Linked DNA regions of Homo sapiens: regions 1 and 2 are each linked to region 3. The links come from fine-mapping of genetic effects on plasma protein levels. A gene starts in region 3. Each other region holds a variant in brackets. All regions are shown on one strand. Distances are between the middles of the regions.

The links. PIP is the posterior inclusion probability: the model's chance that the variant is causal. The UK Biobank Pharma Proteomics Project read protein levels with antibody pairs (Olink). The fine-mapping took linkage between variants from a reference panel, not from the people measured, so its PIPs are less certain.
Region 1: its variant is fine-mapped to the plasma level of the PDCD1 protein (UK Biobank, PIP above 0.99).
Region 2: its variant is fine-mapped to the plasma level of the PDCD1 protein (UK Biobank, PIP above 0.99).

The regions. Positions count from the first base shown.
Region 1 is chr2:241,844,093-241,846,757 of GRCh38, reverse strand. It overlaps LOC124905350 (a long non-coding RNA gene), which reads right to left and starts at 2,591. Exons shown (of 2, transcript XR_007088410.1): 1 at 2,280-2,591; 2 at 278-2,193. The variant G/A (reference allele first, on the strand shown) is at 1,583.
Region 2 is chr2:241,822,397-241,825,061 of GRCh38, reverse strand. No RefSeq gene overlaps it. Among named protein-coding and RNA genes, the nearest start is that of NEU4, 15 kb to the right of the region's middle. The variant GAC/C (reference allele first, on the strand shown) is at 1,504.
Region 3 is chr2:241,857,786-241,860,433 of GRCh38, reverse strand. It overlaps PDCD1 (programmed cell death 1), which reads left to right and starts at 1,540. Exons shown (of 5, transcript NM_005018.3): 1 at 1,540-1,671. The coding sequence starts at 1,596. It overlaps LOC124908032 (a long non-coding RNA gene), which reads right to left and starts at 1,362. Exons shown (of 2, transcript XR_007088436.1): 1 at 357-1,362. RefSeq lists an enhancer at 1,372-2,334.

The DNA.
Region 1 (2,665 bases), 14 kb after region 3:
GCATCCAGAACTCAAGGCTCTCAAACACCCATTCACAGCGCAGCGCGCCAGCGTCCAAAATTCACGGCTCTCATACACCCATTCACCCCATTCACAGCACAGTGCGCTAGGAGACGGAGTGGCGGGCGATGTTTCATCTAGGACAGCAAGAGAGAAGATGCTCCCGGCATAAACCTAGCCAGAAACGTGGGAAAGCTGCCGCAGAGGCTGAACTCAATCAAAGGCACCCTGACCCCCGGGCCCCGAAGAGGCGCCACAGCTGCAAACATGCACGTTCTTCCGATACAATTTGTAAATTTAATACGATCCCAGTAAAAACCACAGTTCTGGAACTACCATGCTCATATGGAAAAATTAACAAGCAAGTAACAGCCAAAAAAACCATGAAAAGAAAGTGAAAGAGGACCAGCTTTATGAGCTCAGGGGAAACTTACTGTAATGAAAACAGGGTGGGATAAGCACCAGAAGACACAGGAACAGGCCCAGTCCCTGCGACCCAAATCAGTGAGGGGAAAAACGACTTTTTAACCAACTGCCCAGGGATAGGGATAGCCATCTGGAAAAGTATTAAGTTAGACTCATATGCACAAAATCCCAAATGCAGCAGAGAGAAAAGCATACAAAAAGAACCCTGGCCGCGCGTGGTGGCTCACGCCTGTGATCCCAGCACTTTGGGAGGTCGAGGCGGGTGGATCACAAGGTCAGGAGATTGAGACCATCCTGGCTAACACGGTGAAACCCTGTCTCTACTAAAAACACAAAAAATTAGCCGGGCATGGTGGCGGGCACCTGTGGTCCCAGCTACTCGGGAGGCTGAGGCAGGAGAATGGCGTGAACCCGGGAGGCGGAGCTTGCAGTGAGCCGAGATCATGCCACTGCACTCCAGCCTGGGCGACACAGCAAGACTCCGTCTCAAAAAAGAAAAAAAAAGGAACCCTACAAGAAACAAGAAACCGTGGGTGCATTCTTGCAGTGTGGGAGGGGAAGGCATTCCCAATGAATAAAGGACATCAGGCAACAATTAAAGAGAAGACTGATACACTGAACTCCATATATTGGAAAACAAAAAACTTTAGCTTGGCAAAAAAAATCATAAACAAACTGAGGGAAAATGTTTGCACCACCACAAAAGAGCGAATATGCCAGTCGTAGGAAGATCTAAGAGTCTGGAAAAAGCAAGGTCAAAAATACACGAGAAAGTGCAGGAGACATAACCCAACAGCTCAGAGAAAATGTGTGTGCGTGAGCCTGTGTGTGCACGTGTCTACACGTGTGTAGACATATGTGTGCATACAAATGTGTGTATGTACATACACAGGGGTATGTGTGTGGGTGTGTGTGTACAGGTGTGCGGACGTGTGTATCTACAATATATGTATATACGGCAGTGCCTGCGTGCATACCCATATCCCTTAAACAATGAAAGGTTGTTCAGGTTCTCTCAACAAAAATACAAGTTGAAACTACATCCACCAGGCTGACAGAGCTCTGACAACGGTGCGGCTGTTGGCGAGGCAGCAGGGAGCAGGCCTGAGGGGCTGGCGGGGAAGCCGAGCTGGAGACGCACCGGTGCTGTCTGGTA[G/A]GCGGTGGGCACTTGCCCTTTGCCCCCTCAACCCCCATCCTCGTCGAAACACTTCCCAGAGGTCACCGGCAAACATGTGCAGACGCAGAGCCCACGAGCTCACGGCGCTGGCTCGGCAACGGCAAAGCCGTCCAAAGCCGGCCGGGGGCTTGAGCCCGCCCCGGAGCCTCCATCAGCTGAGAGCTGGGGCCGCGGGAGCAGGGAGGAGGCTCAGGGCTCCCCACAGAGGGTCAGGTCACTCAAGACCATGAGGGGACACACGCGCAGGACAGAACAACTCGCTGTCCCCAACTTGCTGTCGTGTGAAAATGACACGGCAGCAGTCTGAGCATCAAACAATGCCAAATTAAAATTAAAAACCTAACTGAGGCTTGGCACGGTGGCACTTTGGGAGGCCGAGGCGGGAGGGTCGCTTGAGCCCAGGAGTTTGAGACCAGCCTGGGCAGCAAAGTGAGATCCTGTCTCTAAGGAAAAATTTTAAAATTAGCCAGGTGCGGTGGTCCCAGCTCCTCGGGAGGCTGAGGCGGGAGGATCCCTGGAGTCCCGGAGGTGGAGGCCGCAGTGAGCCACGATGGTGCCACTGACTCCAGCCTGGGCGACAGAGCAAGACCCTGTCAAAAAAAAAAAAAAAAAAAGCCTAATTGATTGACACACTTTGAGTACGTTAAAAAGAACATGAGCTCAGATCGATACTCACAAAAAGAGACAAGGCGGGCGGGGAGGGAGGAAGCGGTCGCTGTCCCCGGGCGTCCGCGGTGTGTTGGCGGCTGAGAGACCGCGGCGCAGTCAGCACTTCGCCTCCCGCCTTCCCGTCAGGCCGCCCCGCGCCGCCGCGCACTCACTTTTTCCGTCCCCGGCTGGCCCCGGGCCTGTGTCGCCGCCGGGCTGCGGCTGCGCTCCCGCCCCACCCACGCGCCCCAGGCGGGTCGGCCCGGCCTCGCACAGCAGCTGCGGCGGCTTCAGGAGCGCCCTGGGTGTGGCCGGGCCTCGGGGCTCCCCGGGGGACAGTGCCGGGAGGAGGCCGGGGCGCGTGGGACCCGGAGCGAGAGAGGCGCGGCCCCGCCCCGTGTCCCAGGCCCCTGA
Region 2 (2,665 bases), 35 kb after region 3:
ACCAGTCTGACCAACGTGGTGAAACCCTGTCTCTACTAAAACTACAAAAAATTAGCTGGGCATAGTGGTGCGTGCCTGTAATCCCAGCTACTCAGGAGGCTGAGGCAGGAGAATCACTTGAACCTAAGAGGTGAAGATTGCAGTGAGCAGAGATCACGCCACTGCACTCCAGCCTGGGCGACAGAGTGAGACTTCATCTCAAAAAAAAAAAAAAAAGAAGAAGAATGAGGCTGGGCACAGTGGCTCACACCTGTAATCCCAGCACTTTGGGAGGCTGAGGCAGGCGGATTACCTGAGGTCAGGAGTTTGAGACCAGCCTGGCCAACATGGTGAAACCCCATCTCTACTAAAAATACAAAAATTAGCCAGGCGTAGTGGCAGATGCCTGTAATCCCAGCTACTCAGGAGGCTACAGCAGGAGAATCGCTTGAGCCCGGGAGGCCGAGGTTGCAGTGAGCAGATATCACAACACGGCACTCCAGCCTGGAAGACAGAGACTCTATCTCAAAAAAAAAAAAAGAAGAAGAAGAAGAAGTAGTCAGGATTCAAGTATTGAAAGATGTCGATGTCATTGGTCAAGCTCCCAGGGTGGGGGTTTGCAGGAGGGAAGCTGGCTGGGGATGCCTTGGGAACCTGAAGAAGCAGGAACAGCTGAGCACGAGGGTCAGACAACGCCGGGGGCCGAAGCCCCGGGCTGAAGGGACCGGGCCTGGTCCCCGCATCGCTGTGCAGTGATAGCAGCTGACGGTCTCGCTTTGGGAGAAACGGGAGATAGATACACACACACTGACATTTACATTTCACTTGTGTGCGTTCGGGGAAAGCTGCGGAATGAATGGGACGGAACGACACTCTGGTCTGAGCAGGTAAAGCAGGTGCTTGGGGCCACGAGAACTTTTTTAATCACATCAAGTGGAACACGCTTGAGACAACGGTTTCGGAAGCCACGCAGGTGCGCTGCGAGATCGTTTCTACCACCTGAGAACCGTCAACAACAGAGGACTTGCCGGGCCTTGATCTCCACATCTGGAAAACAGACACGTTCTCCACCCCGCGGGCCTTTATTTCATACTAAACGGAACGACGCGCTTGAAGCACGTGGCGTGGAGCGAGCCTTCTGCGCATGCGCAAATGCTTCCTCCTCGCCCCTCTGCGCACGCGGCAGGAGCAGAAAGTCAGACAAAGAGAACGTCGTGGAGAAGAACACAAAGGGAGACAGAGACACAGAGAAAGAGAGAGACAGAGACACAGGGAGACAGAGACACAGAGAGAGACACAGAGACACAGAGAGAGACACAGAGACACGACAGAGACACAGAGTCAGAGACAGAGAGACAGAGATACAGAGACAGAGAGACACAGAGACAGAGACACAGAGAAAGAGAGAGACAGAGACACAGGGAGACAGAGACACAGAGAGAGACACAGAGACACAGAGAGAGACACAGAGAGACAGAGACACAGAGTCAGAGACAGAGAGACAGAGATACAGAGACAGAGAGA[GAC/C]ACAGAGACAGAGACACAGAGAAAGAGAGAGACAGAGACACAGGGAGACAGAGACACAGAGAGAGACACAGAGACACAGAGAGAGACACAGAGAGACAGAGACACAGAGTCAGAGACAGAGAGACAGAGATACAGAGACAGAGAGAGACACAGAGACAGAGACACAGAGAAAGAGAGAGACAGAGACACAGGGAGACAGAGACACAGAGAAAGAGAGAGACAGAGACACAGAGAGAGAGACAGAGACACAGGGAGACAGAGACACAGAGACAGAGACACAGAGACAGACACACAGAGACAGACACACAGAGAGACAGAGACACAGAGTCAGAGACAGAGAGACAGAGACACAGAGACAGAGACACAGAGAAAGAGAGACAGAGACACAGAGACAGACTCAGACACAGAGAGAGACAGAGACACGGAGTCAGAGACATAGAGAGACAGAGATACAGAGTCAGAGACAGAGACACAGAGACAGAGACACAGAGAGAGACAGGGACAGAAAGCGTCAGAGACACAAAGAGACAGAGACAGACTCAGAGACAGAGAAAGAGAGACAGAGACACAGAGACAGACTCAGAGACACAGAGAAGAGACACGGAGTCAGAGAGACAGAGACACAGAGTCAGAGACACAGAGAGACAGAGACACAGAGTCAGAGACACAGACAGACACAGAGTCAGAGACACAGAGAGACAGAGACACAGAGTCAGAGACACAGAGGGAGACAGAGTCACGGAAAGAGACAGACACAAACACAAAGAGAGACAGCCCAAGACACAGAGACAGAGAGAGACACAAACACAAAGAGAAACAGAGACAGACACAGAGACAGAGAGACAAGGACAGAGAAAGGATGGGGGAGGGAGAGAGGGAGCAAGAGAGTAACTCCCAGCTGATTAAACACAGCAAAGAGAGAATTCGTGAACTAGAAAAAAAAAAAAGCCAAGGAAAACCAACCAGAATGCAGCACAGACACGAACGAGAAGGAGAGTGCACAGCAGAGGGCCATGCGGATGGTGAGGGGTCCCACACCTGCGTCCTGGAGCCCAGAAGGCGGGAGCAGGGTGGGACCCTGGTGGCCACACAGCTGTTTCCCGAGGCTGCATAGCAAATCACACAGACCTGGAGGTTGAAACGACACAAATGCATCCCCA
Region 3 (2,648 bases):
GAGACAGCATTCAACAGAGGTTGGAACAAGGCTCTACAGGGCTGGGGGCAGAGGGAGGTTCTGTCCAGAATCTGCCTTCAGGACAAGTACAGCCAGCAGGGGCAGCTTAGCCACTTATCCACTGCCTGGGCGAGGCACAGGGCTATGGAGGCACCTACCAACCAACAGTTCTCCAGCCCCAGAGCCCCAGCCCCTGAGGCACAAGGGTGGGTGTGCCAGGAGACAGTTGCTGCGGGCCACCTTAGCTGTCTGGCAGCACAGTGGGTGCTGCCAGGCTCCCTGGGGGCCCCCCGCCAAGCCCACCTGGCCAGCTGGGCCCCCCCCACCTCCCCACCAAGCCACCCACACAGCCTCACATCTCTGAGACCCGGGAGTGGCCCTTTGTTCATAAACGAGAGCTTCCTCGCCGTGGCCGCGCCTCGCAGACATCATCTTTGATGCTCTTTTTCCACTGTTTCGGTGCTTTAATGTTTTCCCTTCAGAGCCGGGCCGAGTGTCTCTCGGAGCCAGGCAGCCGCGCCAGCTGTCAGGCGGTTTCTAGCCTCGCTTCGGTTATTTTAAGCTGATGAGCCTGACGCATCTCATCACTAATATCAGCAGTTTCATTTCTCCTGTTTTCCATTCGCTGTAATAAAATGCTCAGCACAGAATACAAGGAGATAAGCAAGCCATTTCACAAACGCCGGGCCGCCAGCCAGGCCCAGGCACTGGACCCCCTGAACCACCCCACCCTGGCACGAGTGGGCTGGAGGGCAGGGCCCCGGGGAAGAAGGTCAAGGCTGGAAGGGGAGGTCAGCCTCACAGCCAGCCCCTGCCACCGCCCCAGCCCCCCCGTCAGGCTGTTGCAGGCATCACACGGTGGAAAGATCTGGAACTGTGGCCATGGTGTGAGGCCATCCACAAGGTGGAAGCTTTGAGGGGGAGCCGATTAGCCATGGACAGTTGTCATTCAGTAGGGTCACCTGTGCCCCAGCGAAGGGGGATGGGCCGGGAAGGCAGAGGCCAGGCACCTGCCCCCAGCAGGGGCAGAGGCTGTGGGCAGCCGGGAGGCTCCCAGAGGCTCCGACAGAATGGGAGTGGGGTTGAGCCCACCCCTCACTGCAGCCCAGGAACCTGAGCCCAGAGGGGGCCACCCACCTTCCCCAGGCAGGGAGGCCCGGCCCCCAGGGAGATGGGGGGGATGGGGGAGGAGAAGGGCCTGCCCCCACCCGGCAGCCTCAGGAGGGGCAGCTCGGGCGGGATATGGAAAGAGGCCACAGCAGTGAGCAGAGACACAGAGGAGGAAGGGGCCCTGAGCTGGGGAGACCCCCACGGGGTAGGGCGTGGGGGCCACGGGCCCACCTCCTCCCCATCTCCTCTGTCTCCCTGTCTCTGTCTCTCTCTCCCTCCCCCACCCTCTCCCCAGTCCTACCCCCTCCTCACCCCTCCTCCCCCAGCACTGCCTCTGTCACTCTCGCCCACGTGGATGTGGAGGAAGAGGGGGCGGGAGCAAGGGGCGGGCACCCTCCCTTCAACCTGACCTGGGACAGTTTCCCTTCCGCTCACCTCCGCCTGAGCAGTGGAGAAGGCGGCACTCTGGTGGGGCTGCTCCAGGCATGCAGATCCCACAGGCGCCCTGGCCAGTCGTCTGGGCGGTGCTACAACTGGGCTGGCGGCCAGGATGGTTCTTAGGTAGGTGGGGTCGGCGGTCAGGTGTCCCAGAGCCAGGGGTCTGGAGGGACCTTCCACCCTCAGTCCCTGGCAGGTCGGGGGGTGCTGAGGCGGGCCTGGCCCTGGCAGCCCAGGGGTCCCGGAGCGAGGGGTCTGGAGGGACCTTTCACTCTCAGTCCCTGGCAGGTCGGGGGGTGCTGTGGCAGGCCCAGCCTTGGCCCCCAGCTCTGCCCCTTACCCTGAGCTGTGTGGCTTTGGGCAGCTCGAACTCCTGGGTTCCTCTCTGGGCCCCAACTCCTCCCCTGGCCCAAGTCCCCTCTTTGCTCCTGGGCAGGCAGGACCTCTGTCCCCTCTCAGCCGGTCCTTGGGGCTGCGTGTTTCTGTAGAATGACGGGTCAGGCTGGCCAGAACCCCAAACCTTGGCCGTGGGGAGTCTGCGTGGCGGCTCTGCCTTGCCCAGGCATCCTTGGTCCTCACTCGAGTTTTCCTAAGGATGGGATGAGCCCCATGTGGGACTAACCTTGGCTTTACGACGTCAAAGTTTAGATGAGCTGGTGATATTTTTCTCATTATATCCAAAGTGTACCTGTTCGAGTGAGGACAGTTCTTCTGTCTCCAGGATCCCTCCTGGGTGGGGATTGTGCCCGCCTGGGTCTCTGCCCAGATTCCAGGGCTCTCCCCGAGCCCTGTTCAGACCATCCGTGGGGGAGGCCTTGGCCTCACTCTCCCGGATCGAGGAGAGAGGGAGCCTCTTCCTGGGCTGCCCGTGACCCTGGGCCCTCTGTGTACACTGTGACCACAGCCCGCTCCTGGACCCTCTGTGCCCGGCTGGCCCTCTGTGCCCAGCCAGCCTGCACCTGGGGATGCCAAGGCCTGGGGAGGGTGGTTTCACCCAGGCCAAGCCTAAGACAGTCCCTCTGGGCCCTGCTGGGTACCGGGGTGTGACACCACTGGGAGGACAAGATGAGGGGCACCCCTGGGGCCGCCCTGACACCCCC